Homo sapiens: one gene and its partners. The protein of the gene in region 2 purifies or fractionates together with the protein of the main gene of each other region. This does not show direct contact. Each region holds a gene or a part of one and is shown on either strand. Other genes may lie near its edges.

Evidence for each region.
Region 1: the proteins of PRKAR2B (region 2) and AKAP13 purify together in Homo sapiens (affinity purification with mass spectrometry; 4 studies listed by BioGRID and IntAct, with this or other methods). This does not show direct contact.
Region 3: the proteins of PRKAR2B (region 2) and PALM2AKAP2 purify together in Homo sapiens (affinity purification with mass spectrometry; 4 studies listed by BioGRID and IntAct, with this or other methods). This does not show direct contact.
Region 4: the proteins of PRKAR2B (region 2) and NAA25 purify together in Homo sapiens (affinity purification with mass spectrometry; 3 studies listed by BioGRID and IntAct, with this or other methods). This does not show direct contact.
Region 5: the proteins of PRKAR2B (region 2) and CRYBG3 purify together in Homo sapiens (affinity purification with mass spectrometry; 3 studies listed by BioGRID and IntAct, with this or other methods). This does not show direct contact.
Region 6: the proteins of PRKAR2B (region 2) and CSNK1D purify together in Homo sapiens (affinity purification with mass spectrometry; 3 studies listed by BioGRID and IntAct, with this or other methods). This does not show direct contact.
Region 7: the proteins of PRKAR2B (region 2) and PRKX purify together in Homo sapiens (affinity purification with mass spectrometry; 4 studies listed by BioGRID and IntAct, with this or other methods). This does not show direct contact.

Annotation. Positions count from the first base shown.
Region 1 is NC_000015.10:85,582,649-85,586,997, forward strand, and holds part of AKAP13 (A-kinase anchor protein 13), read left to right. Parts: intron 1-3,053; coding exon 3,054-3,175; intron 3,176-4,349. UniProt on the Homo sapiens protein: Scaffold protein that plays an important role in assembling signaling complexes downstream of several types of G protein-coupled receptors.
Region 2 is NC_000007.14:107,155,817-107,160,165, forward strand, and holds part of PRKAR2B (cAMP-dependent protein kinase type II-beta regulatory subunit), read left to right. Parts: intron 1-1,167; coding exon 1,168-1,233; intron 1,234-1,369; coding exon 1,370-1,508; intron 1,509-3,632; coding exon 3,633-3,766; 3' UTR 3,767-4,349. UniProt on the Homo sapiens protein: Regulatory subunit of the cAMP-dependent protein kinases involved in cAMP signaling in cells. Type II regulatory chains mediate membrane association by binding to anchoring proteins, including the MAP2 kinase.
Region 3 is NC_000009.12:110,170,298-110,173,554, reverse strand, and holds the end of PALM2AKAP2 (PALM2-AKAP2 protein isoform 3 (PALM2-AKAP2)), read right to left. Parts: 3' UTR 1,043-3,257; downstream 1-1,042. UniProt on the Homo sapiens protein: Binds to regulatory subunit (RII) of protein kinase A. May be involved in establishing polarity in signaling systems or in integrating PKA-RII isoforms with downstream effectors to capture, amplify and focus diffuse, trans-cellular signals carried by cAMP.
Region 4 is NC_000012.12:112,070,387-112,074,735, reverse strand, and holds part of NAA25 (N-alpha-acetyltransferase 25, NatB auxiliary subunit), read left to right. Parts: coding exon 1-61; intron 62-2,671; coding exon 2,672-2,841; intron 2,842-4,349. UniProt on the Homo sapiens protein: Non-catalytic subunit of the NatB complex which catalyzes acetylation of the N-terminal methionine residues of peptides beginning with Met-Asp, Met-Glu, Met-Asn and Met-Gln. May play a role in normal cell-cycle progression.
Region 5 is NC_000003.12:97,873,162-97,877,510, forward strand, and holds part of CRYBG3 (very large A-kinase anchor protein), read left to right. Parts: coding exon 1-4,349.
Region 6 is NC_000017.11:82,242,282-82,246,630, forward strand, and holds the end of CSNK1D (casein kinase I isoform delta), read right to left. Parts: exon of another isoform or gene 4,191-4,349; intron 4,185-4,190; coding exon of another isoform or gene 4,083-4,184; exon of another isoform or gene 3,917-4,082; intron 3,759-3,916; coding exon of another isoform or gene 3,726-3,758; exon of another isoform or gene 3,695-3,725; intron 2,551-3,694; coding exon 2,500-2,550; 3' UTR 386-2,499; downstream 1-385. UniProt on the Homo sapiens protein: Essential serine/threonine-protein kinase that regulates diverse cellular growth and survival processes including Wnt signaling, DNA repair and circadian rhythms. It can phosphorylate a large number of proteins.
Region 7 is NC_000023.11:3,657,600-3,661,948, forward strand, and holds part of PRKX (cAMP-dependent protein kinase catalytic subunit PRKX), read right to left. Parts: intron 1,940-4,349; exon of another isoform or gene 1,888-1,939; intron 1-1,887. UniProt on the Homo sapiens protein: Serine/threonine protein kinase regulated by and mediating cAMP signaling in cells. Acts through phosphorylation of downstream targets that may include CREB, SMAD6 and PKD1 and has multiple functions in cellular differentiation and epithelial morphogenesis.

The DNA of each region.
Region 1 (4,349 bases), on a different chromosome or scaffold from region 2:
TGGTTTTTTGTTTGTTTGTTTTTGTTTTTTTTGGGCTAGGGGTGTTGTTGACGGGGAACTCCTTCCTTTTCCTGCTTGGGGAGTGGACCTCTAGTTCCATTGCCTGTTGCTTTTGGGCAGCAGTCTGAGAATTCAAGACCCTGCACAGTGCAGGGGATAGGATGCAGGATTTCCGCCCAAGCCCAGTCTGCTGAGCTGCTGTCACAGGGCAGACCTTGTGTCTGCTTTATCTTGGTGAAGCAGCTGCACTGAGCAGATTGCTCACACAGCAGCCTGTTCCATCTGTGGGTAACCATGTTCCGAGGCAGCAAAGAGAAACCGCTATTGCTCCGTGGAAATAAACTATCTGAATAAAACTTCTTAACGGGGGTTGAGGCTGAAGCTGAAACGGGAGTCGGACACGATCTTGGCTCCTGAAGTCTTTAAAGGTCAGTTTGATGCACACTTCTATACCACCACCTGTTACCAGCTGTAGACAGAAGACCTATCTCCATGCTTGCCCCTAGGCTTTTGTAGGTAAGAAGCAGCCTGTTTTGTCTTTATTGTTTATTTTTGCTGTTCTTTTCAATTTTTGAAAATCCCTTTACACATATGTATTAAGAATGTGGGGGAGGGTTATGGAGAGAAATGAATCAATGGAGCAAAAGAAGTTGCTTTGGAAGAAGCGCAATTTAAATACAGTGGTTATTTTCCCTGGTAAAGGGCTTTTAGCCGTTTATAATCTTTTTCCTCCCCAGTTGAGGGATTTAAGGAATCCGAGGTAGAATTTTTGATGACTTTAGCTTTTTAGTTTTATTAATGTTTTGGATTGTTAGTGATAGATACTTGCTGGCTGTTGTCTCAGGATTTAAATGAGGTCTCTAATTTTTAAAAAAAGCCACAACAACAAGTCTATTTTGGGGGCCCTGGCAGGTTGGCATTTCAGAAGAATGGGAGTGGCTGTAAGCTGATGCCTGGTGATGTTCTTTTCATTTCGGTGCTGCGTCCTTGGCCACATGGGCCGGAATTATTTCTCTTTCTGGCTCAGTGGTCAGAATTTGACTCAAGCAAGTGTGAACTCTGTGGGGATTGTGTCTGTAGTATCCTATGAGAAAAAGTAAAAACCAGGGAGAATTTCAGACTTTGATTTTTATTAGCACATATAGTAAAGATGGTGAGAAATGACGGATGTTTAGGATTTTGAGGTTTTGAGAAGGAAGAAAAATGTATGGACTTTCAGCAGTATATATGGGCTTGAGGTTGGTAAATTTTGTGTAGGTGAGTTACTTGTCCTGTTACCAAAAGGAGTCATACTCATGGTCTCAAACTGCAGAGGAACTCTGTATTGATGGTCTCAGACTACAGAGAAAGTAGCCAGTCATGAAGAAATTGGTACTTTCTTCAGAAAATGGCCAGGATTGGGAAAATCCCTGGTCACATTACTTTAGAGAAAAAGCACCTGAGTGTGATCTCAGAGCCAAAGGGTATTTTCTATCAAGTTTACATTCTACTCATAGATTTAATCATACTGTTTTGTGAGTGAGAAGACATAGGTTTAACTGCTGATTTGGAAGGAGCCAGTTTGAAAGAAGGGGATGTGGCCCTTGACCCACCAAAAGCATTGACCACAGTGCTTAGGAAATCAGTGATGCATGACTGAGCCACGCCAGTCCTGCAGAGGCTGCCGACACCCGTCAAGTGTGAGTAATCACTGTTTTCTAGTGTGACTGGTTGCTGTGCCAAGATGCATCTTTTCAAAGTTGATAGGTATAGGAAAGGAAGGAGGTACCAAAAATCACATCCCCAGAGGAAAGCAACCCTCTTTCCCCCCAGAAATTACTCTGACTCACTTAGAGATGTTTTGATCAAGGGATAGTTCTAAGGGGATTGCTTAGTCAGATTTTAACTTTAATAACATTTTATGAAATTTAACACAGATTTTGGTTCTTTGGGCAAGGAAACTTGTTTACCCATTTTTAAACTGCTGGTAAGATTATATAATTATAAGGTCAAAGAAGGAAGAAAAGAGGTTCATCTATAGAAATGTAACTCTTACAAATTTAAGGTAGACTTTTGTACATGTCATGTGCTCCTAGAATAAAATCTTAATATAATTTATTCTTTGGTGAAAGAAACTTCTGTGCTCTTTAGTGTGGGGAGCATTTTTCTTGCCAGAGTAGTGGCATCACTAGGTTAATAACCACAGATGCATTTCCACATGAAATCGAGATGACAGTTCCATTTGCATTTGGATTATTAAGGTGAATTTTGACTGTTCAATCATGAGTCCCGTTTAAAGAAGTGTCAGAAGCCTAAATTTGCCTCAGACATCATTTATCATTTCCTTCCTGTATTTGCTTGACCATGTGGTGGTCAGGTAACAAAAACCACCACTGTTTTTGGTCTGTCAACATGGCCAGCAAGAGGACAACTATGTAATTCTTGAGAAAACATGCGCAGAAACGTTTCTCTTAAGAAAGGGATAGCTAGTCTGTGATTAGGTTTCAGTTTTGGAAGAAATAAGGGTTAAAAATAAGACGTAACTGCTGAGTAGTTCATTCTTACTGGTTACAGTGATGGGTGGATCAGAGTGTGTTGTATGTTAGTGAAAGTCATACTTGTCCCAGAGGCTTTTTCTCATTCTCAGTGGCTTTTTCCTTTTTGTTTTGTACAAATCCTTGCTTTTTTGATGATGGCCAAGATGGACTACCTAGCTTCAGCTATTAATCTGTTCCCCTGAAGCTTATGAATTTAGTTTTCCATATGCAAGTTGGTGCTACACTCAGATTTGTCATAAAAAGTCAATAGTGAAATGGATGTTCAAAAGACATTGAATTGGATCCTCGCTTAGTTCCAAGCGCCTACAAAGGCTAGGGAAAACCAGTAACCATGCGATAAAGGAATAGCTCAGCATAGGGTCAGAAATGACACTAGCCGCTGACAACAAAAGAATACTTTTCCATTTTAACGCAAAAGCAAAACAAAACACATGAAACCTGGAGCATGTTGTATGAATAGTAAGGCACAGGAATCAGTTTTTAAAAATGTACTCTGTAACCCCCCTGCACTTTCAGAAATGCCAGACGTGAAAGCTGAAGATGAAGTGGATTTTAGAGCAAGTTCAATTTCTGAAGAAGTGGCTGTAGGGAGCATAGCTGCTACACTGAAGATGAAGCAAGGCCCAATGACCCAGGCGGTAAGTGGCATCAGTAAGTCTATAAGGGCACAAAATGTGTTTATCCTGTTCTGCTGTGTCTTATTTATGGCTTTGTCTTTTATTTGAGGGTAAGTGGGCAAAATAGTATTTTCCCCCTTCCCTCTTGTGCTGTTATATAAATGTGTTTATGTTGCTGCAGCTAAGCTTTCATAAATGGTATATACCATACAGCAAAGTTTTGGAATGGGCTGTTACATGTTTTCTTATAGATTATGCTGAAAAACATTTTCCCCTTGAGCACAAGGCTTTAAGATTTGTCAGTAAGCTTAAATTGTCACAAAATCTGAGCTATCACAAAAGGGGATCTATAGACCTTTTCTTTCTTTTTTTCTTTCCTTCTTTTTCTTTTTCTTTTTTTTTTTTGAGATGGAGTTTTGCTCTTGTCACCCAGGCTGGAGTGCAGTGGTGTGATTTCAGCTCACTGCAACCTCTGCTTCCTGGGTGAAAGCGATTCTCCTGCCTTCGCCTCCTGCCTAATTTCAGCTGTGAGTAGCTGAAATTACAGGCATGCGCCACCATGACTGACTAATTTTTGTACTTTTTGTGGAGATGGGGTTTTGCCATGTTGGCCAGGCTGTTTTCGAACTGGCCTCAAGTGATCCACCTGCCTCAGCCTCCCAAAGTGCTGGGATTACAGATGTGAGTCATGGCACTCGGCCTATAAACCCTTCTTAAACCTGACTCTTCTTTCTTTATATAAAAACTGATAGCCAAAATGAGATTTTTACTTTATAGCTCAATAGTAACTGTCTAAATTATGAAGTATATCGTTTTCAGCAATGAAAAAACAGGTTCAATAGGCCAGACGCGGTGGCTCACACATGTAATCCCAGCACTTTGGGAGGCTGAGGTGGGTGGATTACCTGAGGTCGGAAGTTCAAGATCAGCCCGACCAACATGGTGAAACCCTGTTTTTACTAAAAATACAAAAAAATTAGCCGGGCGTGGTGGCAGGTGCCTGTAATCCCAGCTACTTGGAAGGCTGAGGCATGAGAATCATTTGAACCTGGGAGGCGGAGGATGCAGTGAGCCAAGATTGTGCCATAGCACTGTAGCCTGGGCGACAGAGCACGACACCTTCTCAAAAAAAAAAAAATAAGAGAATAAAAGGTTCAATCAACATTTTTTTTTTGTTTTAAGAATAGTTTGTTTT
Region 2 (4,349 bases):
TGCAGCACTATTTACAATAACAAAGACATGGAACCAACCCAAATGCCCATCAGTGATAGACTGGATAAAGAAAACGTGGTACATATATACCATGGAGTACTATGCAGCCATAAAAAAGAATGAGATAATGTCCTTTGCAGGACATGGATGAAGCTGGAAGCCATCATTCTCAGCAGACTAACACAGGAGTAGAAAACTAAACACCGAATGTTCTCACTCATAAGTGGGAGTTGAACAATAAGAACACATGGACACAGGGAGGGGAACATCACACACCGGGGCCTGTCAGGGGGTGGGGAGTGAAGGTAGGGAGAGTATTAGGACAGATACCTAATGCATGCGGGGCTTAAAACCAGACAGGTTGATAGGTATAGCAAACCTCCATGGCACATGTATACCTGTGTAACAAACCTGCATGTTCTCCACATGTATCCCTGATTTAAAGTAAAATTTTAAAAAAAGGAAAAAAAAATTAGCTGGGTGTGGTAGCACATGCCTGTAATCCCAGCTACTTGGGAGGGTGAGGTGGGAGAGTCGCCTGAATCCAGGAGGTGGAGGCTGCAGTGAGCTGAGATTGCACCACTGCACTCCAGCCTGGGTGACAGAGCGAGACTCCATCTTGGGGGGGAAAAAGAAAGTATTATTTCAAATAATTTTACAAATGAAATCATTACTACATAATTGTCCATCAAAACCTCTTCATTTAGGGCCGGGCTCGGTGGCTCACGCCTGTAATCCCAGCACTTTGGGAGGCCGACGCAGGCAGATCTCGAGGTCAGGAGATCAAGACCATCCTGGCTAACACGTTGAAACCCCGTCTCTACTAAAAATACAAATAAATTAGCCGGGCGTGGTGGCAGACGCCTGTAGTCCCAGCCACCCAGGAGGCTGAGGCAGGAGAATGGTGTGAACCCGGGAGGTGGAGCTTGTAGTGAGCCGAGATCGCGCCACTGCATTCCAGTCTGGGCAACAGAGTGAGACTCCGTCTCAAAAAAAAAAAAAACCTCTTGATTTAGAAACCGAGACAGCTTGTTCCCTTAGGATTTCACTTTTCAGGTGAATATGTGTACTTTGGGGTTGGATCAATTTTAGGGATATGAAAGGTAACAAGATTGTTGTCAATTAATTTGCATTTTCACCGTCTGTTTTTGTTATTGATTCCAATAGGGAGATTCGGCTGATTCTTTTTTCATTGTAGAATCTGGAGAAGTGAAAATTACTATGAAAAGAAAGGTAAGCATTCTAAGTCCTCAGAACCCACATACTGTTAGCAAGGAACACAACAGATCTACTTTTTGATGTTTAGACTGAGGTTAATTTTATTTTTCATAAGCTGAGGAAAAGCTCATCTTTTTAATTGCCTTGTCAGGGTAAATCAGAAGTGGAAGAGAATGGTGCAGTAGAAATCGCTCGATGCTCGCGGGGACAGTACTTTGGAGAGCTTGCCCTGGTAACTAACAAACCTCGAGCAGCTTCTGCCCACGCCATTGGGACTGTCAAATGTTTAGGTAGGGATTGCAACAGTGGGCGTGCTTCTGCTGGTTGAACTTATGTCTGCATTTTATGTATTCATGTTGAGTGAATCATTTTATTGGGTTCACAGGTTTTGTGGTCCCCACAAAAGGTAACAAGATTAGGACTCATTGCCTTATAAAATCAATTTGTGGAAGCCATTTTTTCTTCGAAATTTTTACATCCAGATACATTTTGCTCTTCTTGTGTATATATGAAATAACATCCCATATTAGTCATTAAAATAAGAGTTCCAAGTACCACGTTTTATATGGAATCTCTCAAATAAGCAACATGTGCTATGTTCCTCAAAAGAGAAGGCTAAAGTACTATTTTTATAAAGTCCGTTATTAAGATCTGCGGGGAATGCTGAGATGTTGTGAGAATCCTTACTCATTACAGTATTGGGACACAAAGGTTCAGGTTTGTCAAAGCACAGTCAAATGTTCTTTGCTGTTCAGTTGTTATTACTATTTTACCAGAGTAGCTTGGCAGAAATGTCATCTTCAGGTGCAGGCATCTGTATATATCTGAGATTATATATCTGAGAAATCACTTACTTTGATAAGAAAATACAGTTTAGAAGGTGGCAATATGGAGGGTATTTTAAGAAAATTGATCTCACAGTTATTACCCTCTCTGTGCTTTTCATCCATAATTCAATAGCATAAACTTAATGTTTTTAAGATTTGCAAGGATCCTTAGAATTAACTTCTTAGAGAAGTCATTCTTTAAAAGGGTTTAAATAAGTATAATATTAATCAAGTGTTAAATTTGGATGGAAGAGAAGACGATTAGAAACTGGCAGGTAATTTCCCTAAGTAGGGCTATTAGAAAGAGTAAAGGTGAGTGAGTGAAAGTCTATTAGAAATAGTAAAGGTGAGTGAGTGAAAGTCTATTACAGTAAAGGTGAGTGAGTGAAAGTCTATTAGAAAGAGTAAAGGTGAGTGAGTGAAAGTCTGTTAATTTTTTTTCAATAATAGATTATTATACTCACATCAAAGAAAACCTGAGAAATACAGAAAATGTAGAAAAAACATAACACCGCCACTCAGTGATTTCTGCTATTATAATTCCTTCTTGTCCTTTTTATTTGTGTGGGCTTCCAGTTGTTAAACAGTTTTCCAAACAACTTTTAAAGTTCATTATCGCTTAGGAATGTTCTTATTTTATTACACCAAATTTTAAAATTCTTTTAGGTAAATATATACACGATAAATTAATCATTCCTTAGTGGTAAATACTTCGAAGGTTTTGGCTCCAACTTTTTTGTGGGGAGCAATTTTTTGTGCATAGAAGACTTTTCTGTATTATAGGAGTTTTCCTTAGAAATGGTTTTCAGGAGTGGGTTTTTAAAAAATTAACTTTTGACACATATTGCCAGATTACTTGTATTTGTACACTACTAGCAGTGCCATAATGCCCATTCACCCTATTCTTGTAAACATTGCCTTTTTTATCTTTTTATCTTTAGTGTAAAAGGCAAAGAAGATCTATTTTAATTTGTACTTTTATGTATAGAGTATGATCATATTTTCTATTTATATATTATAAATCCAGTTTTAAAATCCAGGAGACAGGCAAGCAAAGTGATTTCTAGCATGTACTTATAGAAGTAAACAAAAGCATTATGTCAGCTGCCATTTTTGGATTGCATAGACATAGTATGGCAGCAAAACTTACAAAAGGTTAACACTTGGCCTTCACAACATGGCATTTTAAACCCTGAGAAGGGAACACAGGATAGAAAACACTCTTGTGCCACCCTTGAGGAGTTCACATTGCTAAGGTGGAGACAGCACATTTATTTTTTAAAATTCTAAGGTCTTTCCATGATAGTCCCTCATTCTTTTCTCAGCTTGGACCAGGAACCTCCCACCAACTTAGCATTGCTCATCATATTGCCGAGGGACTGCAGAGTGTGGTCCAAGAGCGTGGCCCTGGCTGCTTCCTTTTTCAAGTGGAACATTTTTATCATTATGCTTTTTCTTGTATTTTATAGTATTTACCTAAAATATCATTGCACTATTGATATATATGGAGTCGGTATTGTAAATGACTTAGAAATTCTGCAGATTTGCAAAGAATGTTATTTAAAAAAAAATCTTCTCTTTTCTCAGCAATGGATGTGCAAGCATTTGAAAGGCTTCTGGGACCTTGCATGGAAATTATGAAAAGGAACATCGCTACCTATGAAGAACAGTTAGTTGCCCTGTTTGGAACGAACATGGATATTGTTGAACCCACTGCATGAAGCAAAAGTATGGAGCAAGACCTGTAGTGACAAAATTACACAGTAGTGGTTAGTCCACTGAGAATGTGTTTGTGTAGATGCCAAGCATTTTCTGTGATTTCAGGTTTTTTCCTTTTTTTACATTTACAACGTATCAATAAACAGTAGTGATTTAATAGTCAATAGGCTTTAACATCACTTTCTAAAGAGTAGTTCATAAAAAAATCAACATACTGATAAAATGACTTTGTACTCCACAAAATTATGACTGAAAGGTTTATTAAAATGATTGTAATATATAGAAAGTATCTGTGTTTAAGAAGATAATTAAAGGATGTTATCATAGGCTATATGTGTTTTACTTATTCAGACTGATAATCATATTAGTGACTATCCCCATGTAAGAGGGCACTTGGCAATTAAACATGCTACACAGCATGGCATCACTTTTTTTTATAACTCATTAAACACAGTAAAATTTTAATCATTTTTGTTTTAAAGTTTTCTAGCTTGATAAGTTATGTGCTGGCCTTGGCCTATTGGTGAAATGGTATAAAATATCATATGCAGTTTTAAAACTTTTTATATTTTTGCAATAAAGTAC
Region 3 (3,257 bases), on a different chromosome or scaffold from region 2:
GGGGTCAGGGGCCCAGGGCTCGGTGATGGGATGGAGCAGCCGGAGACTGAAGCGGGAGGGAGGAAGTAGAAGGGAGGACGCTTCCTGAGAAACTTGTGGTCTTCGCATGCTCTTGAAATGAATAAATTTTGTTAAGTAAATTATACCACAATAAAGCTCTAGCAAAAAAAAAAAAAAAAGAAAAAAAAAGAAAAAAGAAAAAAAGAAAGAAAAGAAAAAGAAAAAGAAAAAGAGTTGGGGGTAGTCGAAGAGTAGGAAAATAAAGAAACCAGAGTAAGAGTTTGGGGAAAGGGGCTTTATGTTGAATACAACAAAAGGAGTCCTTCATGTCAACATGTAGCCATCAGCTATTCCTTGCAGAGGAGAGCCAAATACAGGTGCTTAGAATGTGGTTTTTTTTTTTTTTTTTTTTTTTTTTGAGACGGAGTCTGGCTCTGTCCCCCAGGCTGGAGTGCAGTGGTGCGATCTCGGCTCACTGCAAGCTCCGCCTCCCGGGTTCACGCCATTCTCCTGCCTCAGCCTCTCGAGCAGCTGGGACTACAGGAGCCCGCCACCGCACCCGGCTAATTTTTTGTATTTTTAGTAGAGACGGGGTTTCACCGTGTTAGCCAAGATGGTCTCGATCTCCTGACCTCGTGATCCGCCCGTCTCGGCCTCCCAAAGTGCTGGGATTACAGGCGTGAGCGACCGCGCCCGGCCGGTGCTCATAATGTATTCTAAAGGTTAGAGCCAAAAGCTACAGGCAAGGCTGGAGTTTACCGTTCGTCCTGCTGTTTGTCCAGCTCTTGCTGTGGCTTCGAGTCTATGTCCTTAAGAGGCACTTGCAGCTTCTGGCATCTAGCCAGGGTGGCTGGGGACAGCATTGAAAAGGGGGCTGTGGGAACAGCCTGGTGCAGCAGTGCCCCCTCAGCTCGGATTGATTCCTTTGTTGCAAACATGAGGAACCAGAAGCTGTCACACAGTAGCGGCCAAGTAGGACGCTGGCGTGCCACTGTTTGGCCCAGTCTTCCAACCTCCCTCACGGTCAAACAAGCAGCCATTATTTATAAAAACTCAACACACATTGGATTTTAATGAGAAAATAACTGTATACTTGCATTGAATGCCTCACAATCACTCTAAAACCAAAGCAGGATAATAACATTTAAGTGGTTAACATACACAGGAAAACCAGATACAGAGTATAATTTCCAAACACAGTATTGCTGCTTTTTTCCCCTCCTCCCCCAAAAAAAGAAAAACAAAGAAAAAATAATTTGGGTAAAGAGCAACACAAAATCAAAATTGGCAGCTCACTGAATGCTTAAAATTCAGGAAATTTGTTCTTTAACTAAAATGGAATATATTCACCATCTCTAACACTTAGGCTACTTTTTTTTCAATACATAGTTTAATTAAATCCATTCTTTAGTTGGGAAAAAAAAGGTTTAATTATTTGTCTTCAGAGACAAGAATCAACACTGTTTTAGTGTTCCTTGTTACACTTTATATATATATATGTGTGTGTGTATATATATGTGGACATTGATCTATATACGGCTTATATGTCATTGTCTAGGGTGAGCAGCATGCATGGGTATGAAGAGGCAAGTAAACTGCATTGTGTCATCCAAGTAAAACACAGCACGGCCTCCTGCCACTGACAGACCCTGTTTCCATAATTTCTGGATGAGAAAGCCAAGTCATGTCAGTAGTTAATCAGCTCTGGAGGAAAGTGAACACCTATAAACACGGCAGAATGCAATACTTCCAGAAAGGCTTTTAACACCTACAGAATCTAAACATTTTGTAAGAGGTGGGGTTAACAAGCTTGTGTGCTATTTGGGGGTGGGGCTGAGCATCAGAGGCAAAGTTTTTCGTAAGCCTCTTTCTCTCGATGGATTAGGCAGGAATGACTTTCCTCCAGGGGACGGTCCCATCTTCAGAAAGTTAAAAGGGTCCATTTGGGATCCCAGAGCCTAGCACGGTGCTATGTACAAAGCGGTGGCCCAAGGTTTCTTGAATGAATAAAAAACTCAAGAGCACAGAGAAAATCTGGCTCTCCCAAGTAAACTGTAATTTACATTTTCATGGGATTATAATAGGATCTTCAGTGAGTGGAGCAAGAAGATAGACAGCAGTAATCCGGAAGGCAGCATAGGAGTAATAGCAAAAGTTAAGAGATGTAGGGGCCACAGTGAAAACAGCTTTGTGACTGTGGGAGAGTCCCAGAAACAGTATTTCTTTCCTTATCCACACACGGAGCATGGCCCAAGAACCCCCAGCTCTAGAACTCTGTTATTCTTTAAGCAATAAGTGCTCTGGTTCAATCAACTGTGGTCAAAGACCACTTCATCTGCCTCTAAAGCCATTCCGCGAATAGTGTGGCCTCTTAAGCTTTTCTCTTAGCTGTACATTCTCTTGTCAACTGTAGGTTTCATGAAGCACATGGTTTCCTTCAAAACAGAACAAAAAACTTTAAGGTAAGTCATAAGGATGGTTTCCTCTTGTGAAAAATGGGGAAGTTAGTCTATATCATGTCTATGGTCTCTACCAGATCCATGAGTCAGAGAAAACATGAAGCGCATCACATTTTTTGGGCAACCCATAGAACTATCCTACTCTCCAGCCATCCTAACTGCCACTGTGCCTGGGGCTGTGCAATGCTGCTGCCTCCTCTGTTCTTATCCCTGTGTCTGCTTTGGGAACGCCCCCTTATCGCTGGGTTCTCAGCCCAGGCATCTGGGACCTCTGGCTAGAAATCCTCAGGTAAAGACGATCCTCCTTCCTGAGTCCTCCCATTTCACATCAGGACTTCTAATCTAACACGGATCTCATTTTCCTGAGAATTTTAGTCTCCATGCCAACCTCCCTCACTATAAAATGAATTTCTTGCAACAGGGATCTTACTTGTTTTGCGTCCCCAGTGGCTAGCACATTTTGTTGAGAATTCATTCAAAATATTCAGGAGACTCAACCATATAAAGATGGTGCCAATTGCCCATGTGCTATTTGGGCTGCCATCTGTAGGATGTGGCTTCAAGTTAGAGCTCCCTTGGCAGTTTTAAAGGATCCTTGTTAGTAGATGGTTCCATTTTTTACTTTGTGCCTACTTCTCATTTGTGAATAAATGTCCCCCCCCAAAGTCAACACTAGTCTAATAAAAGAAGCAAAGGAAATGTGCGTTAACATCTACATACAAATTTTGTGAAATTGCTACTTGTTAGAATAACATAATAGAGCTTATGACATAACAATATAAAAACAAAAATGATTTT
Region 4 (4,349 bases), on a different chromosome or scaffold from region 2:
ATTTCGATTCTGTCTTTCGACTGATTGAAGAGGCCTGGAGTCCTCCTGCTGAAGGTGAACAGTAAGTTGTCTTCTTTCCTGAATTATAACAGCACTTTTTAATATAGTGTAGTGAAAGGATTTCATTATAAGCCAATTGAATTCTCTTTTTCTGTCTCAATAAAGTATTCCTTTCAAAGTAAGACATTTTTTCATATTTTTTAAAGTATAAAATACACAAGTTCATTCTAAAAATCATGTTAGTGCCAAAATATGTGGTGTGCTAATTTCCACTTATCCTACCATTCCAAAAATAACTCTTGTTAATAGTTTGGTGCCTTTCCGTGAGATTTATTTCCATCTTTATGCTAAGATAATTTTTCTTTTTCTCCTTTTTTTTTTTTTTTTTTTTTTTGAGATGGAGTTTGGCTCTTGTCACCCAGGCTGGAGTGCAATGGCACGATCTTGGCTCACTGCAACCTCTGCCTCCCAGAAGCAAGCGATTCTCCTGCCTCAGCTTCCCGAATAGCTGGGACTATAGGTGCCCACCGCCGTGCTCAGCTACTTTTTGTATTTTTGGTAGAGACGGGGTTTCACCGTGTTGGCCAGGCTGGTCTCAAACTCCTGACCTCAGGTGATCCACCCATCTCAGCATCTCAGCCTCCCAAAGTGCTGGGATTACAGGTGTGAGCCATTGCGCCCGGCTTAATTATTCTTATATTTAATATAAAAATGGGATTGTATTAGACACGATTTGCAACCTGTTATTTTTCAGCCTTGAAATATATCTTGAACATCTTTCATTTCTGGTACATGTAGATCTCTTTCATTTTTTTTCCCCCCAGTGGCTTAAGAGTACTCCAGATGTACCATAATTCATTTAGCATTTTCCCTATTGATGATACTTGGATTTTTGAAGATCTCTTTTTTTTTCCTTTGTCCTTTTGTTATTGGCTATTGTAGGCAGTACTACAATAAATTTTTTTTCCTTTTTATAGGCATCTAGAGTTAAATGAATAAATGGGGCCGGGCACAGTGGCTCACGCCTGTTATCCCAGCACTTCGGGAGGTGGAGGCGGGCGGATCACAAGGTCAGGAGATCAAGACCATCCTGTGAATGGTGAAACCCCATCTCTACTAAAAATACAAAAAATTAGCTGGGCGTGGTGGCGGGCGCCTGTAGTCCCAGCTACTCTGGAGGCTGAGGAGGGAGAATGGCGTGAACCCGGGAGGCGGAGCTTGCAGTGAGCCGAGATCGTGCCACTGCACTCCAGCCTGGGCGACAGAGCAAGACTCCCTCTCAAAAAAAAGTGAATAAATGGGATCTTTTAAAAAATTAATACAGAAGTAAAATTCAAGATGACAGTTATGAGCTGATGCTTGCTTCGTAATATTAACTAGGTTACCTAATTTTTCTCAGTTTTCATTCTTAAAGCAATAAAATGTACAAGACCCCATCTCAAAAATATATGTGTGTGTGTGTGTGTGTGTGTGTATTTAATTTTTAATTTTTGTTTTTTTTGAGACAGGGTCTCACTCTGTCACCTAGGCTGGAGTGCAGTTGTGTGATCTTGGCTCACTGCAACCTCTGCCTCCTGGGCTCAAGTGATCCTTTTGCCTCAGCCCCAAAAGCAGCTTGGGACTACAGGCATGAGCCACCACGCCTGGCTAATTTTTGTATTTTTTGTAGAGATGGGGTTTTACCATGTTGCCCAGGCTGATCTTGAACTCGTGAGCTCAAGTGATCCACCTGCCTTGGCCTCCCAAAATGCTAGGATTACAGGTGTGAGCCACCGTGCCTGGCCTTTTTTTCTTTTTGAGATGGGGTCTTGCTCTGTCACCCAGTCTGGAGTGCAGTGGTGTAATCTTGCCTCCCACTGTAATCTCTGCCTCTCAGGCTCAAGTGATCATCCCACATCAGCCTCCCAAGTAGCTGAGACTACAGGTGTGTGCCACCACAATTGGCTGCTTTAAATTTTTTGTAGAGATGGGGTCTCCATGCATTGCCTAGGCTGGTCTCAAACTCATGGGCCCAAGCAGTCCTCCCACCTCAGCATCCCAAAGTGCTGGGATTTTAGGTGTGAGCCACCACACCCAGCCTTATATTTTTATTAGGCAATTTTTTTTTCTTTTCTTTTTTTTTTTTTTGAGATGGAATCTCTCTCTGTCACCTAGGCTGGAGTGCAGTGGCGTGATCTCAGCTCACTGCAACCTCTCCCTCCTGGGTTCAAGCGATTCTCCTGCCTCAGCCTCCTGAGTAGCTGGGACTACAGGTGCATGCCACCACGCCCGACTAGTTTTTTATACTTTTAGTAGAGATGGGGTTTCACCATCTTGGCCAGGCTGGTCTCGAACTCCTGACCTCAAGTGATCCGCCCACCTCAGGCTTCCAAAGTGCTGGGATTACAGGCGTGAGCCACCACGCCCAGCCAGGCAGTATTTCATATATACAAAATTATGCATTCTTTTTTTAAAAAGGTAAGTTATGCTGCAGTAATCAAATGCCAAAATTGAGAGTAATCTTATAACATGTTATCTGTTAGAATATGTTCATAGTTCTCTTTTATTCCTTTTTCTATTATTTTATATTATCAAAGTCGTTTTTCTCTTTTTAAATGAGTTTGGCTTGACTTTAAGCTTCGGGAAGGACAATAGAGGCAATAAAATTCCTTTTTCATGTGCTTTTCCTCAGCTCTTTAGAAGGAGAAGTACATTATTCTGCAGAAAAAGCTGTGAAGTTTATAGAAGATCGGATAACGGAAGAATCTAAAAGTTCTCGCCATCTCCGAGGACCACATCTAGCTAAATTGGAGCTGATTAGGCGTTTACGAAGTCAAGGTTGTAACGATGAGTACAAACTGGGTAAGAAACCATGATATCTGGTAAGCCTGGAGAATGCCCTTAATACCCAAGTGCTATATTCATTAGTTGAGATCTACACTGGACAGAGTCATGTTTGGGAAGCAGATGTCTTCATAGCCTGAAAATATTTGCTAATGAATGGATCACTTATAAAATTAGTCCTTTATCATATATTCACCTTGGCTTAACATTAACTTATCTCCCTGTTCCGTCAGAGTCTTTGTCAGGCATTCTGTTGCTGACCCAACAATAAAGTCAAAATCAGCTGGTTGCGGTGTCTCACGCCTGTAATCCCAGCACTTTGGGAGGCTGTTGTGGGTGGATTGCTTGAGCTCAGGAGTTGGAGATCAGCTGGGGCAACATGGTGAAACCCCATCTACAAAAAATACAAAAAAATTAGCTGGGCATAATGACGCACATCTGTAGTCCCAGCTACTCAGGAGGCTGAGGCAGGAGAGTCTCTTGAGTCCAGGAGGCAGAGGTTATAGTGATCTGAGATCGTGCCTTCACTCCAGCCTGAGCGACACAGCCAGAACCTGTCTCAAAAATTTAATTTAAAAAAATAAAAAAACCTGGCTGGGTGCATTGGCTCACACCTGTAATCCTAGCACTTTGGGAGGCCGAGGTGGGCGGAACACCTGAGCTCAGGAGTTCAAGACCAGCCTGGCCAACATGGCCGTAACCCCGTTTCTGCTAAAAATACAAAAAATTGGGTGGATGTGGTGGCTCATGCCTATAATCCCAGCACTTTGGGAGGCCGAGGTGGGCGGATCACCTGAGGTCAGGTGTTCAAGACCAGCCTGGCCAACATGGCCGTAACCCCGTTTCTCCTAAAAATACAAAAAATTGGGTGGATGTGGTGGCTCATGCCTATAATCCCAGCACTTTGGGAGGCCAAGGCGGGCGGATCACCTGAGGTCAGGTGTTCAAGACCAGCCTGGCCAACATGGTGAAACACCGTCTCTACTAAAAATACAAAAATTAGCCAGGCATGGTGGCACACGCCTGTAGTTACAGCTACTTGGGAGGCTGAGGCAGGAGAATTGCTTGAACCTGGGAGGTACAGGTTGTGATGAGCTGAGATCTTGCCGCTGCACTCTAGCCTGGGTGACAGAGTGAGACTCTGTCTCAAAAACAAACAAAAACAAAAAATTATCTGAGCGTGGTGTCGTGCACCTGTGTCTCAGCTACTCGGGAGGCTGAGACACAAGAATCGCTTGAACCAAGAGATGGAGGTTGCAGTTAGCCAAGATCGCGCCACCGCACTCCAGCTTCAGCCTGGGTGACACAGCGAGACTCTGTCGCAAAACAACAAAAAATTAAAAAAAAATAAAAACAGTCAAAAACAATAAAGTCAAAATCAACTTCAAAGTAAAATTGCCAGTTTGGGAAAAGTTTCATGAAGTGGATGAAAGGTTTCTTGAAAATCTGCTTGAAGCACTCACAAAACTATTGACAAAAGAATATTTGGTGGAATTAGCAATTTATAACTGAAGAGAAAATTTACT
Region 5 (4,349 bases), on a different chromosome or scaffold from region 2:
TCCTACCTTTGTTTCTGGAGTTGGGATGCTGAGCAAGTTGGATATTCCTGATTTAATGAATGAGGGTTCTCCTGTGCCCATTGAAACTGGGAATGTCAACATTGTTGGTATTTCCTATCAGCCTAGGAAGTGTAAAGAAGAAAATGTGAAAAACCATGTTGAGGCTGCAGGCAGGAAGAGTCCTCCTCCTTCCTTTTGCCTTGAATATACATCTGCAATTTTTGAATTCAAAGAAGTTCTTTCTAATAGTGAAAAATGCCAGGTTCTTCCAGGTTCTGAAGCCAGTGGCCCTCACTTAACTGGGTTGGAGCTATTGAGCTTTGACTCTGGAAACCTCTCTAAGGATTGCAGTTCCATTTTATCTCAAGACCCTAATAGAGTAGAGTTAGTGTCTTCAAACACTAAAGCAAATATGAGCATAATAGAGAAGTCTGATTCTCTTTCCTTGGAAGCCAAAACTGCTAACATTGTATCAAAAGCTGAAATTGATGGTCAGAACAATGTTCTTGTGGAGTCACATTCTGGAAGAGGAAAAACTATATCCTTGTCCAAGGTATCTCTTTCAAAAGTGGAGCCCAGAAACATTTCTCAGGATAAAATGTCTTCTTTTCCATTGAAAATTACCCATGTTCCAGAAAAGCCTATTTTGTCAGAATTAACCTTTCTAGAAGTTGAACAGGGCAAACGTTTTCAATCAATTAATCATAATGAGATAGGAGAGAAATGTTCAGATGCTGGCCTTAAAGAGAATTGCCAAGCTGAGCTTTCTCCTGCTGCCTCCAAATATGAAGATAAGCCAGAACCAGAGGTAGATGCCTTAGGCTCTCCTCCTGCTCTTCTTAAAAGTAATATATCTTGGATTTTACCACCTATTCATGATGAAAAAATCAGTAGGCAAATGGCGCAGAATTGTGAAGCTCACACTTGTGTGTTTCATCAATCTTTGGATATTTGTGGGACTAAAAAGATTTCTGGTCACTCAGAAATGGCGGAACTCAGCTTAACTAATATTTCCCCTAAATTCCAAGAAACTGGCAGCATGAAAGTAAATTCACCTTTTCTGGATTCTGATTCCAGTTTGGAAAAAAATTCTTCTGCATCTGAGGACTCAAGCTTCCTTAAAGTACCTTCTGTGCTGAAATTGGAAAAGAAATCCTCATCTTACAGAAAGAAAGAGAACATCCATTTTTTAAATGGTGGTATTGATAGTGTGTCATCTTCCTCTAGTTACCCTGAAGAAGTTAGCATGATAGTAAATTCACATAAGCCCCAAAATAATTTGGATTCTATACAAGTTACCAAAGATCTCACACATGAAGGTACCTCTGTAACTAACCTGTTGTACCCTACTACCTCTTATTTGGAATTTGAAACGTCTGTCTCAATTGGGACAGAAGTAACCCCATTTCAGGAACATTTTGGGATTTATACTGGGAAGATATCCATTGATTTCCCAACTGCTGCCCAATTTGACAATCTCGTGGAAGCAGAGACTGGAGCAGTTGCTGGGCCTGCAGCGTCAGTTAACAGCTCAGGCCAACAGTGTTCTGAAGCCTCTGCTGAGCACATAGAAGCCAGGAGAAGAGCACATGACCAACTTTTGGACCTCAAAAGTAGTTTACTCAAAAAGGCCGATACATTGATTGGTGAGATTTTTAATTCTGTCAGGGAAGAACTAAAATTCAAACACACAGTGAGTACCTGCCAGGAGCATATAGCCATAGAAGGTATAATGAATCTGGGTACCCTGAAAGAAGACATCTCTGAGAAAAACCCATCAGAAGTGACACTAACAGAAATACAACAGACAGAGGGTTTGGAAGAGCAAGGCATGGAAAACATGTCAGAAGTCAAAGAGAAGCCCTGTGTTTCACCAACAGTTGGTGAGAAGAATCTTCTTGTTGATCCTAATAGTATGAATGTATCTTGTTTGTTAGAAGATAAAGCTAGGGAATTAGTCAATGAGATTATTTATGTAGCCCAAGAAAAATTGAGAAATGATACTTTTGAAGATACTGAGGATACTTGGGATTCTGAACTTCAGGCTAATACTTCAAAAATTCTGAACAGTGATAGTGTTAAGCCACATGATGTAGTTAGAGAGTTCTTGGTTTCAGAACAGCCAGTAAATCAAAGCACACAAATTAGTGAAAATAAAGTATTAAATGAATTCTTCTCCCTAAGTAACTTAGCTAGTGGCACAGAGTCAATTAAGGGAGGAGAAATTGTTCTCTACCAAAAATCCCTATTTTCTGGAAATGGATCTGGACTGTCTGATAGTATAAATTTGCAGGAATCAGATACGGTTTTACTAGCTGAAGACATGTCACATAAACGGTTAGATGATAGGGTAAAAACACATTTATTTCGCAGTGAGGACTGTAATGAGACAATGGAAATAGAGAATGTGGATAATAACAAAACTGAGACAGAGGACAGAAGAACTCTTGTATTAAATTTCAAATGGCCTCCACTTGTGAATGATGACATCCATGCACCTGGTACATCTAAAAGCAGTTTGTCTGATAGCCTTGTATGTATATCTGAAAAAAACTTGCCAGGACACAGTAAAAACACACCTCTTGCAATGTCAGATGTAGGGAAAGTACACAAGAAGGATAATGAAATAAATATAGGGAAAATTGAACTTATACCTTCCATGTTAGAAACAGGGAAAACAAACAAAAAGGATGCTGAATTGAATATTCTGAAATATGAGGCAGTCCCTCCTATGATAGAAATGGGAAGAATACATAAAATGGATGCTGAATTGAATGTCACGAAAACTGAGCCAAAAGCTAATGTTTTTAAAATGGGAGAAGTATACCAAATGGATGCCGAGAGCTGTATTGAAAAAACTGAGGGATCAGCTGTCATTTTAGGAATGGAAAAAGCTTATAAGATGAAGGATACTGAAGGGGATATTGGCAAAATTGAGGTGATACCTATGATGCCAGAAGTGAAAAATATCCACCAAAAGGATGCTGAAGGGGATATTGTAAAGACTGAGATGACACCTGTTACAGTAGACATGGAAAATATTTACCAAACGCATGCTGAAGGGGATATTGGCAAGACTGGGACGATAGCCTTGTCAGAAGTGGAAAATATCCACCAAAAAGGTGGTGAAGGGATTAGTGAAAAGGCTGAAGTGATACCCGTTACATTAGCAATGGAAAATACTTACCAAAAGGATGCTGAAGGGGATATTGGAAAGGCTGAAGTGATGCCTGTGAGGTTAGAAATGGAAAATACTTACCCAAAGGATACTGAAAGAGACGGTGGCAAAACTGAGGTGATGCCCCTTGCATTAGAGGTAGTAAATACTTACCAAAAAAATGCCAAAGGTTTTACCGGGAACACTGAAGGGTCTGTGTTGAAAATGGAAGCTACTTACCGAAAGACTGCTGAAGAGGTCATTAAGAATACTGAAATAGTACCGTGTGTGTTAAAAGTGAAGGAAGCACACGAGACAGCACCTGCCCCCTTAGAAATGGAAAAAGCATGCAAGAGAGATGTTAAAGAGACTATTGGAGCAACTGTGTCCACACCCTCTGTGATAGAAATGGAAAAAATATCCCCAGAAGATCGTGGTGAGAATATTGGGAAACACAAAGTGTTACCCGCAGTGGTAGACATTGAGAAAATACATGGAACAGGACTAGAATTGACCACTAAACAAGGGGAGGCCATGCTTCCTGCATTTGAAAGTAAAACACCACAAGAGTATGCTGAAGGGAGTGTTGAAGAAACAAAGGAAGAGCCTACAGAAATAAAGGAAGGCTTGATAGCACATGAAAATAGACTTCCTACATATTTCAGGGGATATGAATCCCCTACATTAAGTAAGGATTATGAGGGCTACCCAGCCCCAGCAATGCCAGATTTTCAACCTGGGGATACCACAGTAAGACTAGACAAAAGAATGTCTCTTACTGCAATATATGACAAGAGGAGAGAGACAGATTATAGTGACAAAGGATATAATTTAGCTTTTGTTTCTCAAGATGAACAAGAAAATTCTTCCTTTACTATATTATACGAAGAGCCCCTTCAAGAGGAGGACAAGTATGCTTCCGCAGAAGCAAGACAAACACAGTCTGTCTTGTTTCATGATACGTCCGCTGACAGCATGCCTGTTCTGGCATGTGAAAGGTCTGAGAGTAGAACTGACCTTGTCCATCACTTTGAAAAAGGTACTAAATTAGGTGAGACATTTGATAGTGATAGTTCAGAAATGTTCTTATCAGTGGAGGCCAAAAGGTACAAAATTTATCCTTTAGCATTGTCTCCCATTTATGAGGATGACAGCTCACAGGAGGACATTCTATCTAGTGAGGTTTCACCTG
Region 6 (4,349 bases), on a different chromosome or scaffold from region 2:
AACAGCTCAAGCGACAGGGGGATCCCTGAGCACCACGGCCCTATGGCAGGGGGAAGGGACATGCGCTCACCCCAGGCGGCTGGAGTGCGGCTGCCGGTGCCGCCCGAGAAGGCAGGGACTCTCCAGAACCGTCACACAGAAAGTGCGTGGACTTCTGTGTGCACAACAGAGCCCAAGGGGGCAGCACGGCGAGGAGCAGTCGCCACCCCTCCCTGCCCGGCAGCAGGCCCAGGGGGCAGCTCTCCTGCTCTGCCAGCTCCCAGACACCCACAGGCTGAGAAAGAACAAACAGCCATCTCAAAGAAGTATTTTCACACAGTTCACCTCAACACAGTGAAAACTCTCAAGCTGATGAAATAAAGACCACATGGAAAGGGGAGGGAAGAAAGGTAGAAGTCATTATGAATTTATTATTTACACGATTGTTAAAGTACACAAATACAGTGGCGATACAAACGCACAGCTCGGAGACTGGCCGTCAGTGCACAGCTGACACGACGTCCTACCTACGTCTCCTGCACGGGGCGACGGGGACTAGATACTGGGCAAGGACTGTCACAAGCACTCCGAAGACGCGACCCGGCGAGGCTCGGGCTGGAACCCGGGCGCAGAGCTGCCTCGCACAAACGTTCTGGGCACTACATCGGGACCACAGATATTTACAAAGCAAGCTTGCGCCACTTCAGGCCACAGCGCGACGTCTCTCCGGGTGGGGGACGTCTACCTTCAAGAAGGGGTCCAGCAACAAAGAAAATCTCTTAACTCGGCTCTGACCCACCCCAACCTCCCTCTGTACTTCAACACACAGCTCCCACCCGCTCAAGGCCCCGTACTCCAAAACGCTTACACAGTAACCAGCCTAGGATTGAGAAAGCATCCATGGGCTCAGGCAGACGGCCAGCCAGCTGGTGGGGGGGTGAACAACTGTGTTCTGGGACGCCAGCCAGTTATGGCATCCGGGGAACTCTGGGGAGGAGAAGGGAGAACCAAGGTGCACACCTTCGAAGCCCTAGAGTCCAAAGGGAACATCGTCCATCGTGATGGGGTCCAGCCGAAGTGCCCACGAACACAGACTGCCCTGCGCATTGGGGTTGGGAGCACATGGCCACTGGCTACCGCCCAAGTGCTGCGGAGTGAGAGGCGAGAAGGCATCCTGGGAACCTCAGGGCACAGCAGCATGGAGCCTGGGGCAGCACCAGCTCACGGAGGCCACCTGCCTTCTGGTGGGACTCGGCCCCACGCACGCTGCTTCACTTCTGACCAACAGACACGCGCCCAACAGAAGGTCACAGCGCAGACTCTACTTTCTGGCCGTGAAGGTTCTGGGTCCGGTTGGGAGAGTCACCTGCTCCTTGGCACCTCAGGGTGGGTCCTTCTGGCCTGCCGGCTTTTCTGAGCTAGTCTTGGCACGTGGCAAGGACAGCCCCGCTCCTGGTTTTAAGCACAGGCATTCATACAGACGGAGTGCCAATCCGCACAGGAGCATTGAGTGCTGAGAAAATGGACTGAGTGCAAAGGCAGCAAGGCAACAAACACTACAGTAACCACCTCTCGGTTCACAGTCCTCTCCCAAGGGACCAGAAACGCATCTTCCACCTTGAATCCTGGGACTCCCAATTGTCCTGCTAGGGTCTCAAAGCCTCTGCTTCCAAGCTCTCAGCTGCCTGCCCACCTCCTGGGGAAGAAGCGCGCAGTGCTTTGCCTGGTAACACCCACTGCACCCCTGCCCCGCGGCAGCCTGCGGTCCCTAACTGCTCTCCGAGGGCCTCAAGAGTTCCTGACAGCAGGCATGTCAATTACGGGAGGAGGGAGGGTGAGACGCCAAAATCAGGTTGAAGAGGTCCCACCACACACGGGCACACACACACACCACGGACTTTTGATGAGAAATCTCCTCTCCAAAGCGGACAATAAAACACTGCAAAACAAACACAGCACACACCCTTGAGATCCACCTGCACCTTCTCCCTGCCCGACTCCACCTCATACACTAACTCCAAGCCAGCCTGTCTCAGAATTCCTTAGTCAACATTTTTTTTGTAAGACTGCAAAAACAGACAAGAAACAATAAAAAGACAGATTTTCTTTACACAGATTTAAGCCAATAATTTTTAGCAAAATGATACAAAACTGTCTTAACCAAGTAGAAGATTGGTAGTTACAGTGGAATCGTCAGGGAGTACAGGGCGGCCACCACTGGAGGGAGCTGAGGCCCTGGAAAAGGAGTCTGATTCTCTGCAATTCTCTCTCTGCTTTTCTTCCCAGCCCCGTTACAACCGAGTTCACGTGGGGGGCCGCAGTGCAGCCCCAGCGGTGGCAGCTCTTGGAGTCTGTCCGTTTAGTATGTTTCCCCCACGAGCGTCGCTGGGTGAGTGGCCTGGAGAGCTCCCGGTGTTAACATTTCGATCCTAGACCGGGGGACGTGTCACTAGTAAAGCCATTGGTAACAGAGTAGATCAGCCATGCATTGTCTGCCCTTCACAGCAATAAGGAGAGTTCTCATCGGTGCACGACAGACTGAAGACCACTGGAAGCCACCCGACCAGGAATCTGTCGGAGCCAAAGCACAGGAGAAGGTCAGCATGGGGCTGGGGGAGCCGGCCAGGCAGATACCACAGTGACGGTGCTGGGCAGGGAGGGGACGCACCGCCACCGCCTAGCCCCAGTCTAGACGCCTGCGTCCCCCGCCACGCACAGGGGCCTCTGTGGCTGGGACACGTGCTCAGCAGAACGAGTGACAGGAAGACGGGAAGGAGGAAGAGGCATGCAAGCAAGGTGCCCGCGGAGCCGGGCTCGGCAGGGTCGAAGGATCCGAGTGGAGCGGAGACGGGTGCTCCTGCCTCCCTTCCTGGAAAGGAACCTGGTGTTTGAAAATGGGTACCCCTCTCAGGGAAGACATGAAAAGCAGTTCCTGTCAACACATTTCCAGAGTGTGCACAGTGTGAAAACTGCAGCGGGTCTCCCAGCGGCACAGACCCGACAGAAGCGCAAGCCCCTGCTGGAAGGAGCCGCCGAGCGCGCGTGGCCGCCGAGGAGGGAGCACAGCGTGGACGCCGGCCATGCACCGACGGCGGGGAGTGAGTGGGCTGCGGCTGGAGGAGTTAATACAGACGAAGCTGCGTGGACAAGACGGCTGGGCAGAGACCAAGTGTGAAAAGAAACACAAAACAAGGACAGAGATAAATGAGACAGGAAGAGAGAGGCGACTAGAAAAGCTGGCATGGCAGAGACTGCCCAGAGTGTGGCGCAGCAAGAGCTTAGGAGCCCCCAACACCAAGCGTGGAGCCACCCAGCTGAGCAGGACACAGACGCCCCTCCAGGCACGGCCGACCGCAGACAAGGCAACTCAAGTGCTCGGGGCACCCGCCTTGCCACTCCTGCCTCACGGGTGGGCACCCAGGACAGGAGGAGAGCAACGGCACACGGAACGCAGTCACGGGGAGGCCACAGGCCAACAGGATGGTCTCCTGGGGTCACTCTGTTCCAAAGCTCTCTGTGGACAGCCTCCCCCCAAGACTGGGCAGCGGACTGCCGCCGCTCTGCACCCCACAAGAAGAACAGAGCAGAAGAAGCCTCACTCTACCTCCAGCACCTGGCATGCAAGCCCAGCCCACCTGCAAGCTCCCATGGGTGGGGCATGGTGGCTCCCACCCACCTGGCGCTGCTGCCTGGCGCCCGCCACGCGCACACTCACCCAGTGCTGCCTTCCGATGGGAGACGAGCAGCTACTTGCCGTGGTGTTCGAAAGGAATGCTATTCTGAGGTGGGGAAAAGACAGCTGTTGGTAAGCGTCCCGCTGGCCCCCTGACTACCTGTGTCGGCTCCATGTCCAGATGGGCATCCTTGCCTCAACCAGGTCCACAGACCGACAGGTGCCACCTGGGGGAGCCCAGGCACAGAGCACAGCCTCACTTGCCTCTCAGGACGGGCCTCTGGATGAGAGTGGTGCCCACTCCTCTTCTGGAATCACTTGCTCTTAAGGCCAACAATGGCATGGGACAGGCCCTCCTGAGTCTTCTCAAGCACTAAGAAAACCTGATCCCAGCAGGATGGCAGGTGCTGGGCAGCCCCACAACTGGGTCTCAGGGCACAGCCTGAAGGCAGGGGAGACGCACATCCTCGCCGGTACGACGACAGGGCTCAGGCCTAGTCCTGGGCAGGAGTTGATCAAAGCGAGTCATCGACTGTTGGAATGACAAGGCCTTCTTCTCACCAAGTAAAAACCCCAAACAGACTCAGCAACTAGATGGCCTTTAGGGCCCAGGCTACTGTAGCCAAAGAGCCCTGGCCGAACACCAACAGCCCGAAAAGAGAGGGGGCGAAGAGGGAACAGACCCAGGCGGAGTCCG
Region 7 (4,349 bases), on a different chromosome or scaffold from region 2:
ACCTGATTCAGTAACCTGGAACTATCATTAAGCCTGAGAATTAACAATAAACTAGCAGACTGCATCCCAAACCTGCTAGGAAAAGGTAGCCCTTTTAAAAAGCCCCAAATGAAGTATTTCGAAGCACTTGCTTGTGGGAGCTTGCCTGAGGTGCTTCTCCTTACAAAGGTGTTGATTAATGGAAGAAAACGCAGCAATGAGAGATTGAGGAAGGTGGGGGTAGGGATGAAAGAAGGAACAGAAGATACTGAGGTGCGTCTGTGCATTCAACATCTCAGCACAAGTTACAAATACAGTTTGGAGAGATACGCACTGATAATGAAAGAACGTTTTCACCTAAAGATGGGACGGGTGGGGTATGAGGCAAGATTTGGAACTAAGGGCTTTGGGATTTTTGTTTGTTTGTTTTTCAGAGAGTTTTGCTCTTGTTGCCCAGGCTGGAGTGCAACGGTGCAATCTCGGCTCACTGCAACCTCCGCCTCCTGGGTGCAAGCGATTCTCCTGCCTCAGCCTCCCAAGTAGTTGGGATTATAGGCGCCCACCACCACGCCCAGCTAATTTTTGTATTTTTAGTAGAGATGGGGCTTCACCATGTTGGCCAGGCCGGTCTCGAACTCCTGACCTCAGGCGATCCACCCGCCTCGGCCTCCAGAAATGCTGGGATTACAGGCATGAGCCACCGTGCCCGGTCTGTTTGTTTCTGAAACAGGTTCTTATTCTGTCTGCCAGGCTGGAGTGCAGTGGTGCAGGTAAGGCTCATGCAGCCTCAACTTCCCGGGCTCGAGCAATCCTCTCACCTCAGCCTCCCAAGTAGCTAGGACTACAGGTGCATGCCACCATGCCTGGCTAATTTTTATTTACTGTTATTTGTAGAGACAGGGTCTCACTGTGTTGCCCAGGCTGGTTTTGAACTCCAGGGCTCCAGCAATCCTCCCGCCTCATCCTCCCGAAGTGCTGGGATTACAAACGTGAGCCACTGTACCTGACCTGGGCTTTGTTTTTGGAGAGGACTCGGAAGACACCAGCATGCCCGTGTTCCCATGAGCACATGAGCCTTCACCAGTAGAAGACACCCAATAGAATCAGGAGCATAAAGGTCTTCAACCATGACCAGGACCCGTGCCAGTTTTGTCTCATCTGATCATGATGCTATCACAGATGCTCCCCTGCAAGCTCATTCAAATGAGCTGCACCCCGCTGGTATACAAAGAAAACAAAATGAGGCCCAGGAAACCTTCCCTGAGGACAGGGAAGGATGCTCAAGGTCGACCGGATGGTCTTGTCTGCTAGCACAGGCCATTCCACCAAAACAATGTAGAATGAAGGCAAGGACGTGGGAGACAGCTTGCAATGACACAGAGATTAATGCTAAGAAAAATCATAGGCTGGGCACGGCGGCTCAATGCCTGTCATTCCAGCACTTTGGGAAGCCAAGGCAGGAGGATCACTTGAGGCCAGGTGTTGGAAAGCAGCATGAGCAGCACAGCAAGATCCCGTCTCTACAATAAAAGAATCAGCCAGGCATGGTGGCATCCCAGCAATTCGGGAGGCTGAGGTGGGAAGATCATTTGAGCCCAGGAATTGGAGGCTGCAGTGAGCTATGATCACAACATCACTGTACTCCAACCTGGGTGACAGAGCAAGACCTCATTTCTAAAAGGAAAAAAAAAAAAAAATAGACACATGCTACTGTGAATTTTAAATGAACATTTATTTGACTAATCACAATGTTTTTATGTATTAGCAAAAATATGGGCCTCTTATAAAAAAGGCTCTTACCTAACGCACTTTTAAATTTGCAGATTCTGCAATGATGCTGGAGGTGGGGGACTAATGACCCACACATACAGGTTGCAGGAATGCCTTCTGCTCTCCACCTTGCTGCTGGATTCCTGCCCCTCAGCAGCTGGGTGGCTGAAGGGAGCTCAGGAAGCTCAGGGTTAGACATTTCTTCTGTTTTTTTTCCTTCAGTTACTGAAGGCTGTGCACCTGTGTCCCACCTCTCCATTCACTTCTTATAGCTCAGCAAGTTCAAAATGTGTGGTCTTGAGGCATAAAGGGAAGCAGGGACACTATATGAGGAAGGAGAAGTATTTTGTTGGAGTGGTGTTTTTTTTGTTTTTTTTTTTGTTTTTTTTTTTTTTGAGACAGTCTTGCTCTGTCACCCAGGCTTGGAGTGCAATGGCACGATCTTGGCTCACTGCAACCTCCGCCTCCCGAGTTCAAGTGATTCTCCCGCCTCAGCCTCCCGAGTAGCTGGGATTACAGGCGCATGCCACCATGACCGGCTACTTTTGGTATGTAGTGGCTGTTTTCCAGAGCAATCTGCTGGAGTTCTAAAAGACCCAGCACATACCCACATTCCTTCCATCTTATCACTGACATCTCGACTCATTTTCTCCCAGCTAAATGCCCTGTTTTTCTGCTTTGCACCGTTATTGGTTGGGCAAGAGTGTTCCTCTCAGTAATATTTCGTGATTAAGCACATGGCATCTCAAATGCATGACAGTCAAACTGTACTTTTGTGGATGAGCTTAGAAGACAACCATGATTTCATGATTTCACTGTTCTGGTGGGGAAATATTTTCCAAGGTCCAAATACTATCGTACTAGTGAACTTTTACAATAAACTTCTGTGTCAGCTGGTGACTTTCTAAATTTCTTCAGGGCGCAAGGTGGAAGGAAAATTTAGCTACGACTGACCAGCCAAGGTGTGATACTGAACATTTGGGGGTAACACTGAGCTCTTGAAAATACCATTAATAGTCAAAGCAATAGCAAGACCACTGTCTACAACTGTTAATTTGGTTGAAGAGAATATACATGGCTCTACTTCCCTATGGCTCAAATATGTAAGAAAAAGATGGACGCATGCTTACACACACACATACAAACACACTCTCTCTCTCTCTATCAATTAGCTTGCAACACATTTTTGGATATATCCTGTATCCTCCCCCATCTACCTCACTCTGGGATAATAATCTGCACAGATCCTCTTAAGAATAATGCATCACCTTGTCACAATGTAGCAGCAGGTCACCTTTCAGGAGCATCAGAGATAATTAACCATGGTGGGAGATTAGAAGGATTTGGGTAGGTTAGAAGCAAGGAATGAAAGAACTTTGAGGATTACACAGGCATGTAGAATACGCAAGCCCTGACAATACAAACATCTCAGGTTCGGTCACTTGGCTTGCAGGGGAAGTTGCAATTTCAACCATGGGTAGGATGATCTGTAGAGGAAGAGAGTTAGGGCTTTGTATCAAATGAGAAGAGGAGGGAAGGGACGAGGAGAGGAGGGGAAGGAAGAAGAGGTGGGGAGAGGAGGAGAGAAAGCAGGGGAGAAAAAGTTACTGCACGAGTGGGGAAAACTACTGAGATGTGTAAGGTTGTATGAAAATACATCTGTTCCACAAGTGTCTCAGTAAAATCAACATCAACAAACCACAAGGCTTAATAAAGTCACCTTATCAGTATATATGAAATGGAGACATCATTTTTACCTATACACTAATGCGGGATCACCCTTCAGCATCTTTAAGAAGTAACAGTTTACAAAGAGAGTTAGCAAGTAAAAACATACTCCTTTAAGAAAAAGAAAAATCTAGATAACTGGGATTCTCTTGCCCTTCCCCAAACCAATAAGATTAAGTAAATATTATAAGAAAAAAGAAGTTCTCTGACACATCCTTCCTTCAAATCTTTTATCAGTAAGACTTTGCAGGCGAGTGTGGTGGCTCACACCTGTAATCCCAGCACTTTGGGAAACTGAGGCAGGAGGATCACTTGAGACCAAGAGTTTGAGACTAGCCTGGGCAAAATAGGGAGACTCTGTCTCTGCAAAAAATAAAAAGATTAGCTAGGTGTGGTTGTGCAGGCCTGTAGTCCCAGGTACTTAAGAGGCTGAGGCAGCAGGACAGCCTGAGCCCAGGAGTTGAAGCTATGACTGAACCTCTGCACTCCAGCCTCAGTGACAGAGCCAGACCCTATCTGGAAAAAAAAAAAAAGACTTTGCTTACGTGGACAGAATTTGTACAGAGCTGGGTATCACTAAAGATAAGGAACAAAATGTTGAAAGAGATACTGACTTTACTATCTCCAAAAAACATTCACAAAACTTAAGTCATCATGTGCAGGGGCTGTGGGATAGGACGAGTTTAGTGACCACAGGTGATTTCAAATCTGAGCTTAGAAAATTAGAAACCAATGCATCAGTTCAATGATTCCAGTTACCTGAGGGACTCTGCCCCTGACATCAAGTCTATAAAAGTTCAAAAGCAATAGAAGATAAGAGGGTTTATCACAATGGATATGAGAAGTATGTTCAAGATCTAACACTTACTGTA